Homo sapiens: one gene and its partners. The protein of the gene in region 1 interacts with the protein of each later gene in a biochemical or structural test. Each region holds a gene or a part of one and is shown in the gene's direction. Other genes may lie near its edges. The genes, in order: MICALL1, EHD3 and RFFL.

Evidence for each region.
Region 2: the proteins of MICALL1 (region 1) and EHD3 form a complex in vitro, tested with the Homo sapiens proteins (one study listed by BioGRID and IntAct).
Region 3: of the proteins of MICALL1 (region 1) and RFFL, one has a biochemical effect on the other in vitro, tested with the Homo sapiens proteins (one study listed by BioGRID).

The regions. Positions count from the first base shown.
Region 1 is NC_000022.11:37,937,209-37,940,957, forward strand, and holds part of MICALL1 (MICAL-like protein 1), read left to right. Parts: intron 1-537; coding exon 538-584; coding exon of another isoform or gene 585-611; intron 612-3,500; coding exon 3,501-3,622; 3' UTR 3,623-3,749. UniProt on the Homo sapiens protein: Lipid-binding protein with higher affinity for phosphatidic acid, a lipid enriched in recycling endosome membranes. On endosome membranes, acts as a downstream effector of Rab proteins recruiting cytosolic proteins to regulate membrane tubulation.
Region 2 is NC_000002.12:31,244,048-31,247,796, forward strand, and holds part of EHD3 (EH domain-containing protein 3), read left to right. Parts: intron 1-226; coding exon 227-403; exon of another isoform or gene 404-805; intron 806-3,749. UniProt on the Homo sapiens protein: ATP- and membrane-binding protein that controls membrane reorganization/tubulation upon ATP hydrolysis. In vitro causes tubulation of endocytic membranes. Binding to phosphatidic acid induces its membrane tubulation activity.
Region 3 is NC_000017.11:35,021,990-35,025,738, reverse strand, and holds part of RFFL (E3 ubiquitin-protein ligase rififylin), read left to right. Parts: intron 1-3,749.

The DNA.
Region 1 (3,749 bases):
GGTGGGGGGTCCTGGGGGCAGGGCCAGAGCAGGTCAGGCTCTGGGCCTCATGGGTGGGGCAGCTCCCTGGAGAGCCAAAGACACAGTCCACGCCTCAGGCCAGGCCAGCCCTGCCCTCCTACCAGCGATCCCAGTGCACCGTTGCTCAGCCCTGTGTGGACAGAGAGGGCATCTGCTCCTTCCTCCCGTAGGACTCTCAGCTGCCGCTGCTTTTTTTTTTTTTTTTTTTTTTGAGACAGCGTTTCACTCTTGTTGCCCAGGCTGGAGTGCAATGGCATAACCTCGGCTCACTACAACCTCTGTCTCCCAGGTTCAAGCGATTCTCCTACCTCTGCCTCCCGAGTAGCTGGGATTACAGGCATGAGCCACCACACCCAGCTACTTTTTGTATTTTTAGTAGAGATGGGGTTTCACCATGTTGGCTAGGCTGATCTCGAACTCCTGACTTCAGGTGATCCACCCACCTTGGCCTCCCAAAGTGCTGGGATTACAGGTGTGAGCCACCACGCCCAGCTTAACTGCTGCTGCTTATTTCAGGGAGGAAGAGGAAGACAAGATGTTGGAAGCCATGATCAAGAAGAAAGGTGAGGCCCTTGCTGGGGATGAGGCTGGTGAGCACTTGAACTTCGGCATTGGGGTTGGAAGGGAGGGACTGGTTGAAGGGAGGGTTGGAGTGGGCACTACCAGGATGGCTGTGCACAAACTCCGCAGCCTCTGTTGTGCAGAGAGGGCTGTGTGTAGCAAGAGAGGCCAGCATACAGCCAGGAAGGCTGTGGCTTAGGCTTGGAGGGTAGCCGTGGGATGCCCTGATGCCTACAGAGACGACTGTGGTATATGGGAGGCATCTTCCCAGGGTGGATTTGCCCTCAGCTGTGCATTCCCCCTTGAGATCTGCAGCTGGTTTTGTTGGAGTCCGTGGGCCCAAATAGCAGTGCTTCCTGGGGACCAAGTGGTGCTTGAAACAGTTAAAAGAGTACTGGACAGGAGATCAAGACCATCAGGGCTAACACGGTGAAACCCCGTCTCTACTAAAAATACAAGAAATTAGTCAGGCGTGGTGGCGAGAGCTTGTAGTCCCAGCTACTCGGGAGGCTGGGGCAGGAGAATGGTGTGAACCCGGGAGGTGGAGCTTGCAGTGAGCCGAGATCACGCCAGTGCACTCCAGCCTGGGTGACAGAGCGAGACTCAGTCTCAAAAAAAAAAAAAAAAAAAGTACTGGACTGTAAGTCAAAGGATTTTTTTTCTTTTCTTTTTTTTTTTTTTGAGACAGAGTCCCACTCTGTTGTTTAGGCTGGAGTGCAGTGGTGTGATTTTGGCTTACTGCAATCTCTGCCTCCTAGGTTCAAGCAATTCTCCTGTCTCAGCCTCCTGAGTTGCTGGGACTACAGGCGCATGCCATCACACCCAGCTAATTTTTTTTTTTTTTTTTTTGAGACAGAGTCTTGCTTTTGTCACCCAGGCTGGAGTGCAGTGGTACGATCTCAGCTCACTCAACCTCCGCCTCCCAAGTTCAAGCAATTCTGCTTCAGCTTCCTCAGTAGCTGGGATTAGCTGCCACCACACCCGGCTAATTTTTGTACTTTTAGTAGAGATGGGGTTTCGCCATGTTGGCCAGGCTAGTCTTGAACTCCTGACCTCAAGTGATCCGCTCGCCTCGGCCTCCCAAAGTGCTGGGATTATAGGTGTGAGCCACTGCGCCCGGCCCTGGCTAATTTTTTTGTATTTTTAGTAGAAACGGGGTTTCATCATGTTGACCAGGCTGGTCTCGAACTCCTGGCCTCAAGCGATCTGCCCACCTCGGCCTCCCAAAATGCTGGGATTACAGGCGTGAGCCAGTGTTCCTGGCCAGGATTTGGGTTTTGGTCTTGGTTTTACCAGTACCTCACTTTGTGGCCTTGTGGTTAGGTCTTGACTCAGGCCAAGTCAGACTACTTGAGTTCTAGTCCCAGCTCTGGCACTTATGAGCTGGGTGACTTTGAGCTGGCCACTCTACCACTCTGGTCTCATTCTTCATATCTGCAGAATGCGGGTGAAAATGGCACCCCCTCACAGGTGTGTGCTGGGATTACTGAGATAATGTGTAAAACTTAGCTGAGGGCCCTGGCCCTACAAAGGGCTCAGTTGGTATTAGTCAATTTCAAAGGCCTACATTTTCCTTGTCTATAAAATTAGGGGCTCAGACAGATGATTTTGAAGGTTTCTCTTGCTCTGACAGCGTTTGTGTTGTAAGTAACAGAGCTGTGGGCACCAGCCTGGGTGAATCCAGCCTTTTAAAGATAAATGGGGGCCAGGCGCGGTGGCTCACGCCTGTAATGCCAGCACTTTGGGAGGCCGAGGCCGGCAGATCACGAGGTCAGGTGTTCGAGACCAGCCTGGCCAGCATGGTGAAACCCTGTCTCTACTAAAAATACAAAAATTAGCCGCGCATGGCAGCGCTTGCGTGTAATCCCAGCTACTCGGGAGGCTGAGGCAGAAGAATCGCCTGAACCCAGGTGGCAGAGGTTGCAGTGAGCCGAGATCGTGCCACTGCATTCCAGCCTGGGCGACAGCACAAGTCTCCGTCTCAAAAAAAAAAAAAAAAAAAAAAAAGATAAGTGGGGCCAGGCACGGTGGCTCACGCCTGTAATCCCAGCACTTTAGGAGGCTGAGGCGGGCTCATCGCCTGAGGTCAGAAGTTTGAGATCAGCCTGGCCCAACATGGTGTAACCCCGTCTCTACTAAAAATACAAAAATTAGCTGGGTGTGGTGGCACACTTCTGTAATCTCAGCTACTTGGGAGGCTAAGGCAGGAGAATTTCTTGAACCAGGAGGCAGAGTTTGCAGTGAGCTGAGACCGCACCATTGCACTCCAGCCTGGGCGACAGAGACTCTGTCTCAAAAAAAAGAAAAAGAAAAAGATAAATGGATGCCATGCTTCAGAATTCCTGGATTCTAGGCCGAGTGTGGTGGCTCATGCCTGTAATCCTAGCAGTTTGGGAGGCTGAGGCGGGGGGGATCACGAGGTCAGGAGATCGAGAGCATTCTGGCTAACAGTGAAACCCCATCTCTACTAAAAATACAAAAATTAGCCGGGGCGTGGTGGCACCTGCCTGTAGTCCCAGCTACTCGGGAGGCTGAGGCAGGAGAATCGCCTGAACCCGGGAGGCGGAGGTTGCAGTGGGCCAAGATCGCGTCATTGCACTCCAGCCTGGGCGACAAAGCGACTCAGTCTCAAAAAAAAAAAGAATTCCCGGATTCAGCAGAGCTCTTACATGTGCTGACCATCTTGATCTTTCCCCAAACACTGGAGGTGGGGAGGGGGAGGATGGGCCCCATCCTCTAGGTGAAGAGACAGAGGCTGGGAAAGGTGAGTGTCTTGTCCCTCCCAGGCTCCACACAGGAAGTGGTGGGGCTGGGCTGAGCCCTGCTGCCCATGCCCAGGCCTGTGTCACTGGGTCTAGCCTGCCCTGGATGTACCCCTCTTCTCCACTTTATTAAGTGCTCCCCTCTCTGTGCTGCAGAGTTCCAGAGGGAGGCTGAACCTGAGGGCAAGAAGAAGGGGAAGTTCAAGACCATGAAGATGTTGAAACTGCTAGGAAACAAACGTGATGCCAAGAGCAAGTCCCCCAGAGACAAGAGCTAACAGCACGAGAAGCCAGTTGGGGACTGCCCCCTCCTGGAGCAGCTCCTGGGCTGTGCTCTGTTTGAAGGGGGCGCCCTGCTCCCCTCAGATCAGTCAGGAGGAAGATGACTAAGGGGAGGGATCCTCT
Region 2 (3,749 bases), on another chromosome or scaffold:
AAAGATAAGGACCAAAAAACAGAATATTTTAAGTTCAGCTGAAATTCCACCTCCTCTACAAAGTTCTTTGGACTTGTTATCCAGCAGGCATTTCTCCCGGCCATGAGATCTTGCTGCGGTGGCCCTGCCCTCCCCTCTGACTCGCATGTTGTCTGCCTTATAGTAGACATGCCGTGTTGATCTTTGCGCAGAACGCCTGCATTAGGACTGTGCTTCTTCCTGCTAGGTACCTGCTGGAACAGGACTTCCCAGGCATGAGGATTGGGCCTGAGCCCACCACAGACTCCTTCATTGCGGTGATGCAGGGAGACATGGAGGGGATCATCCCTGGGAACGCCCTGGTGGTGGATCCCAAGAAACCCTTCAGGAAACTCAACGCCTTTGGCAACGCCTTCTTGAACAGGTGAGTGTGGAGGGAACACAACACTTTCAGGTGCTCTCTTTTCTTCTTGGGGTATGGGGAGTGAAAGAACAGTAGGCAGGGTCTTGGGATGCTTGGTGCCTAGAGTCTCCTGTCAATCTTTCCATACCTAGATTGTCCCTTGCTTGCTGAGAGTGTAACTGAGTCAGTTGTGAGATGCAGCAGCTGCAAATGCTGGGTTGATTCCTCCTTATCAGGGAGCAGGGAAGGATACAACAATGACTCAGGTCACATTCCCCTACCCTGCACCTACCCCTAGTAAAAGTGGAGGAGGATGCTCCATATAGTTCCCAGTATTTGCCTAAATATTCAGTGGCTGGGATTTGCATCCAACTGGAAGGAGGCAGACGAAGGTTCTTTTCTATTCACGGATATTGTTTCTACCTGGTGGGAAGAACCCTGGAATTAAGAGGGAAGCCTTGGGTTTGAGCACTAACTCTTCTACTAAATTGAATGACCTTGCACAGGTCACCTCTCTTCCCCCGGGACAAGTTCAGCCTTGCAGATACCAAGATCATCATGATGATGTGAATGGAGAAAGCTCTAGGAATGCTTGGCAAACTAATCTGGGCCTTCACATTAATTATTCTGTTTAACCAGAATGCAGGCTGATCCCCTGCTCACACTTATTACACTGATAAATCCAGTTTCACATGTGCATGGTAAATACTTTGAAAATAATTTTAAAACTACTTTTTCTAATTGGAGGTTTTTAGAGTAGAGGTAATGAATATGGGCTTTGCCTTCAGATAGACCTGGGTTCAAATCCTGCCTAATACTGTGGCTCTTGAACAAGTTACAAAACTTACTTGTTTCTAATTTTTCCCATCTGTAAATAGGATAATAGGAGTTAAAGGAGAAATAAGTGGGATAGTGAACAGAAAACACTTCGTGCCTGGCACATAGTAACCAACAGGTTAGTTAGTGATAGTGTTACTATGTCTTATTTCATTTGATTACTTAATTGTTTAGTGAATGGAATAGGCATCTGCTGTGGCCATTTTTCATTGTAGAAGTTGAGGCTCATTGCCCAAAGGATTCTCGATGTCTCTTATCCCAAATATATATATATATATATATATATATTTTTTTTTTTTTTTTTTTTTTGATGAGATGGAGTTTCACTCTTGTTGCCCAAGCTGGAGTGCAATGGCGCGATCTCAGCTCATCGCAAACTCTGCCTCCCAGGTTCAAGCAATTCTCCTGCCTCAGCCTCCCGAGTAGCTGGGATTACAGGCATGTGCCACCACGCCCGACTAATTTTGTGTTTTTTTTTTTTTTTTTTTTTTTTTAGTAGAGACAGGGTTTCTCCATGTTTGTCAGGCTGGTCTCGAACTCCCAACCTCAGGTGATTGACCTGCCTCAGCCTCCCAAAGTGCTGGGATTACAGGCGTGAGCCACCGTGCCTGGCCCCAAATAATATTTTTTATAAACCTATGAACTTGTCTCTGACCTTTCTTGTAGTGGCATGGAGTCAATAACAGTCTAAGACAGGGACAGGGAGACCACGACATGAATGAAATGTGGAACTGTGAGTGGCCAAGGTGTGCGCCCAGAGTAGGGAGCAGAGGAAGGGTCACGCTGAGAAATCTTGGGAACTTGGCCTGGCAGAGAGAGAGGCCCAGGCATGGGGCTTGGTTTATGTTGGGAATGAAGCTGAGGTCCCTTTAGGAAGAATGAGGAGGTCGTGGTGGTAAGGTGCAGTGGGGCAGGTGTCCTGGAGTCCAGGGGTGTCTCTTATACCTGGAACTGAGTAAGGAGGTCCTGGATGCCCAAAATGCTAAAATGCATAAATGGAGGGGGTGGGATGAGCATGATTCAGGAGAATGAGTCGCTGGAGCTGAAGAGAAGCAGGGATATCTGAGCAAGGGGGTAGGCAAGGAATTTGATTTTGGACACATTGAGTTTGCAGTGTTAGTGAGTCAGCTGAGGAGCATCGTCCTATCTGAAGGCAGAGAGGAGGAGCTGGACCCCAGGGGAGAGGAGGGAAAAGCCAGGGGGAGACAAGAGGAAACTGGGCTCATCACAAGAGAAGAGTACAGGTTTAGTGGTTAATGCCATTTTGGGATAATTGTGCTTATAATGATATAGTGTATTGTATTATATGTAATAGCATATAGCCTATTATGATAACAGAATTTAAGTGATTGCCATCATATGCTGGGTGCATTCCTGAGAGCTGAGCGCCCTTATGTCATTAATCAAACCCAGCAAGTCTCATTAACTCCATTGTTAAATGTATTGAAACCAGGTGGTGTGGGTGAGGTTGGGTGGGGGTGGTTTACTTTGAGTAAAGACACCTCTTTGAATATTATTATCTTCATCTAGAAAGTGATAAAATGTAAATAATCCATTCCTGCAAATGTTGTGTGTTGTGTGAAGAAGATCTGAGAGAGAAAGGAAAAAATATATAAATCTTTACAGTGGTTACCTTTTTTTTTTTTTTGAGACGAGGTCTTGCTCTGTCGCCCAGGCTGAAGTGCAGTGGCATGATCTCAGCTCACTTTAGCCTCCATCTCCTGGGTTCAGGCAATTTTCCCGCCTCAGCCTCCTGAATAGCTGGGGTTACAGGCATGCGCCACCACGCCTGGCTAATTTTTGTATTTTTAGTAGAGACAGGGTTTCACCATGTTGGCCAGGCTGGTCACAAACTCCTGGCCTCAAGTGATCCGCCCACCTTGGCCTCCCAAAGTGCTGGGTTTACAGGTGTGAGCCTGTAACCGGCCTACAGTGGTTCCATTTAGGAAGTGGAATTGAGCAGGGCAGAAGGATAGAGAAGAGGAACACCTTCCTATTTCATTTTATGCCTTGCTGGACCATGTTTTGGTTTTTTGTTTTGTTTTGTTTTTTGTTTGTTTGTTTTTTACCATGTGCATATATTTTACAAAAAAAAAAATTATAAAGAAAATATATAGGAAGGTGTTGTGAAACAAATAACATGCACATAAAAGGTGATACTATTAAGGGGTCAGGAATCTCTCTCTAAATCTGTGATTTCAATGAATAAAATGAAGGTGACTGAGGCAAGATCCTGCATTTCCAGAGTGACTTGGTGTCTGGCCTGGAGAGCAGACATTGACAAGGAAAGAAATGTGGCCACAGGAGGGGCTGTGTCTCCTGCCTCCTTCCCAGGTATCTTACTAAGGGATAGAATTCGTGTTTTATTTCAACAGACACCAGGCCCCTAGCGGCCTTGGGCTCTATTCTGTGGGGGAATATAAGGCTGATCCAGTCCAGTGGGCACAGGCTTGGAAAGAGCCAGTGATAACCCAGGCAAGAGGAAGAGCAGGCCTGACGAGGCCTTTGTGGGAAAGTTGGCATTTGACCC
Region 3 (3,749 bases), on another chromosome or scaffold:
GTGAGTTATCTGTGATCAAGCATGACTAGGCAGAAGGTAAACCCTCACCTGGATAAAGAACTCCTGCATTCTGCATTTTTCTGCAGAATGAGAGGTTTGCAGCTCAGAATAAGTGATAGGATATGATGTTAAAATGGTGATCATGGGAAATTTGAGAGGAAATCATACTTTTAAACCATCTGCTATGTGCAAAGGACTGTTTAAGGAATTTAAATTTTTTTATTTCATTTAATCCTCACAATAGCTATGATATAGGTTTTAGAATCTCCCAAATCCCATTTTACATATGAGAAACTAGGGCTTAGGGTTTAAAATTTAAGAAGAACATTGAATGTGTTAAATTCCTGACAAATAGCATGAGAGATATTAAAATACTCATTCTTTTCCCTTGACTTCAGTAGTGCTCAAGATCACATAGTTATTAAATGACAGAGCCGGGATTCAAACCCAGGTCCTTGATTCCAAAGCCCCTCCCAGAAGACATTCAGCATGTCGAGTAGAAGATGACAGTTACAGGCCTGGGTGCCTAGAAAAGCATGGCAATGATTAAAATAAGGTGCTTTTTTTCTTACTTATTGGAAAATGAATTACTGAATATCTACTGTGTATCAGGAATTGCCTGGGCTAGGGAGGCAGAGATGAAGAAGGCCATTGCTGCTTAACGGGGAGCTTGCAGTTGGACAGGGAGGTGAGGACAGTGCACACCATACGATGTGACAAAAGAAAAGTGTGTGTAACAAGAGCTTCTGGAGGGGAAGAAAAATTCCAGTTTGGATGGTAAAAGATGGTTATTGGTACAATATTTTCTTGCTACAATATTTTCTTGCTACAAAAGTATGAGTTAATTTTGTGCAATTTACAGTGAATTTTGTGAATATTAAGGGTGTTTTCATCTATGAGAATTTTTCATTTGTAATTTCATGCTTAAGTGGATCAGCATTCTTATCTTAAGGGTTTGGCATTTAACACCCAGGGGCTTTCAAAATGTCTTTTTCTAGAAGTGCTTGAATTGAAATGATTCCATGGATCCTACTATCTTTTTCTTTTCCTTATTCTTCATTATGGTCAGTACTTTCTGAATGCTTATTGGGTGCAAAGCACAGATAACATTCAGGACTTTATAGACAGAATATAAGTAAGATGTGGCCCTTGCATTCCCTGAGTTTTCAGTCCTAAAGAGAAATGGCAGGCTGTACTTTTGCCACAAGCCAAATACCCCATCTCTATTGGTAATACCTCCCTGTGGTTTAGCAGCGACCCTGACGGTTTTGGAGGGAGTCTGGCACCCAGCCTCTTTAGTTGGACCAGTTGGAGGATGAGGTTATGCTTGGAGCCATGGAAGTGATATTCAGATCTCAGAGTGTTAAGAGAGGACTGGGTCTTAGGTGCTGGTAAGGGGAAAGAAAAAGGTAACCGTGTTACCTTTTCTGGAGCATCCACTTTGTGCTAAGGTTTTATATACATTCTCTCATGTAATACTTCCCATATTCCAGGGAATAGGGTGGGAGGGAGTAGGAGCAAGGGAAGGGCAGTTGGCAAACGGGAGCCAGCAGAACCCTGCACACGGCATCCTTGAAGGGTGGTGTCGGCCTGAGGCGCCACGGCCAGTTCTGTGATGCTGGATATCTCAGTACACCCTGGGCATTTCTGCAGGCATGTTGGTTGCCTCCACTAATTCATCTTTCATGCTACCTGGTTACTGAGTTGTTTTGAACCATTCGGCAGAATTTATACATAAGTGTGTCCTTTGCTCATTCTGCCTGCATTTGTTGACAGCCCTTTTTTCCTTTCTTCTTGTTTTCTTCTGCCACTGCAAACTGGGGTTTTAGCCTCAAGCCCTATCCTGTTCCTGTAGGGTGTGTTTCAGATGCCAGCTTATTTCAGAGTTCCCTGTGAGCCAGCGGGTGCATAGAAGCTAGGTTGTTGTCTGCATTCTGATCTTGCATCCAGCAAGCCACACACATTTGAAGAAAGAATAGAGAGTTGTTTGGATCTGGCTGATTGAGCAACGCAGGCTTTATAATTGTGTCAAGCTAGGTCTTGTCAGACTGCATCGACTTAAGTAATATTCCATGTCAGGCCCACAGGTTTATGGCATTGAAGCCTCTTTGTTTCAGTCTCAGTCATCCTAAACAGACTTCATTTCCCAATAGAAAAGCTTTAGATGTGAATGAACCCCAAATACCTGAAAACATCCATTTTCTGCCTGCATGGCTACTGGTCCCAGAACCGTTACAATGCTAGTGCAGCCATGCATCCTTTTAAGTCCATCTCTGAACAGTATTGTTTGGTTATAACTGTATGGAGAATTAGGGAGCTTGATATATGTCCCTTTGCAATGCCTTCTAAGTCTTAATAGCCAAAACTGGGTGGTAAATATTATTTCCTTTTCCCTTTACTATGTGAATGATACTTAGACAAAACTTATATAACTATCTTAACTATGCAGACATTTACTTCAGCCCAGAGTGTCTGTGATCTTGACTATGAGAATCTTGTCTCTTGAGCTTTCTTTTTTAGCTTGAATATCTTTCTATATTTCGAAAAGATGGACCAGAAATATTTAAGTTACTACTTAAGTCAACACAGGATGAAAAGTTTTTAACTTCTTTAAAGGATTAATGAGGGTGCCCTCCAGGCCAATCCCAGTGTGCTCAGGAATTACCTCTCTTGTTGGGGATGTGACATGCTCTTGGCCAGAACAGAGCTCAGCCGGATGTCACTGTGCTCACTCAGCCTGTGGGGTGAGAGGCCGAGGATTGCTTCCTGTGGGCTGAGTAAGCCTTCCTGTGTTGTCAGCGACTGCCAGACTAGCTGCTGCCAGGCAGTACCAGCTTGCCCATCAGGCGCTCTTGTTGCCTAACTGAGACACTCTGTGCTTTCAGGAACGAGAGTACCCTGATGTCCAGACAGCCTCCCGTTGCTGTCTAAATATTTGTCTTGGATATGCTTGTAAGCACCACTGGGTTCCCAGCACTCTGAGTGGGCCTTCCTGGAGTGGGGAGCCTGTGTCGATGGAGCAGTGGGTGGGGAATTTGGAGATGGAAGCCAGGCCCTTGACTCAGAACTGCTCTGTACTTGAATGGAACTGAGCTATGCAGTATGGCCTGGTGGAAAGAATGTGATCATGGGCATTAGCCTCCAACAGACCTTGAGTGTGAATACCCGCTCTCCTGTTTATTGCCTGACCTTGAATACAACAGTTGATCTCCCTAAGCCTCGGTTGCTTTGTCTGTGAATCAGGGAAGAACACTAATACCTACTTTGCAATGTCGCTTTGAGAATTAAATGACAAGCTAGCATATAGAAGCACCTCAATAAATTAATATTAATTGTAACAACCACCACCACCATAACCTTCATGCAGAAATAATTACAGTTTAGGATTTGAATCCTGGCTGTCACCGTTAGGTAATATTTCCTAGCTATAATAAAACAGCTTACACTTGTTGAGGACTCATTTTGTGTTAGATATGCTAAATGGGTTCTCTCTTAATCTTCACAACAACCCCATGAGGTAGATACTGTTATCACCCCCATTTTACAGATGTGGAAACTGAGCACCAGAGAGGCTAAATTACACACCCAAGGTGATACTGCAAGAAATAAGGGAGGGAGGCTTAATAAAAATGCAGAGCTTTTTGATTCTTATGCTGGTAGTCTTAATTAATACCTCAGGTGCTTCAGGAGTAAATAAAGTAAGCCTCAAATTAAATAATAAATGTGAAGTGTCCTGTACATGGATATAC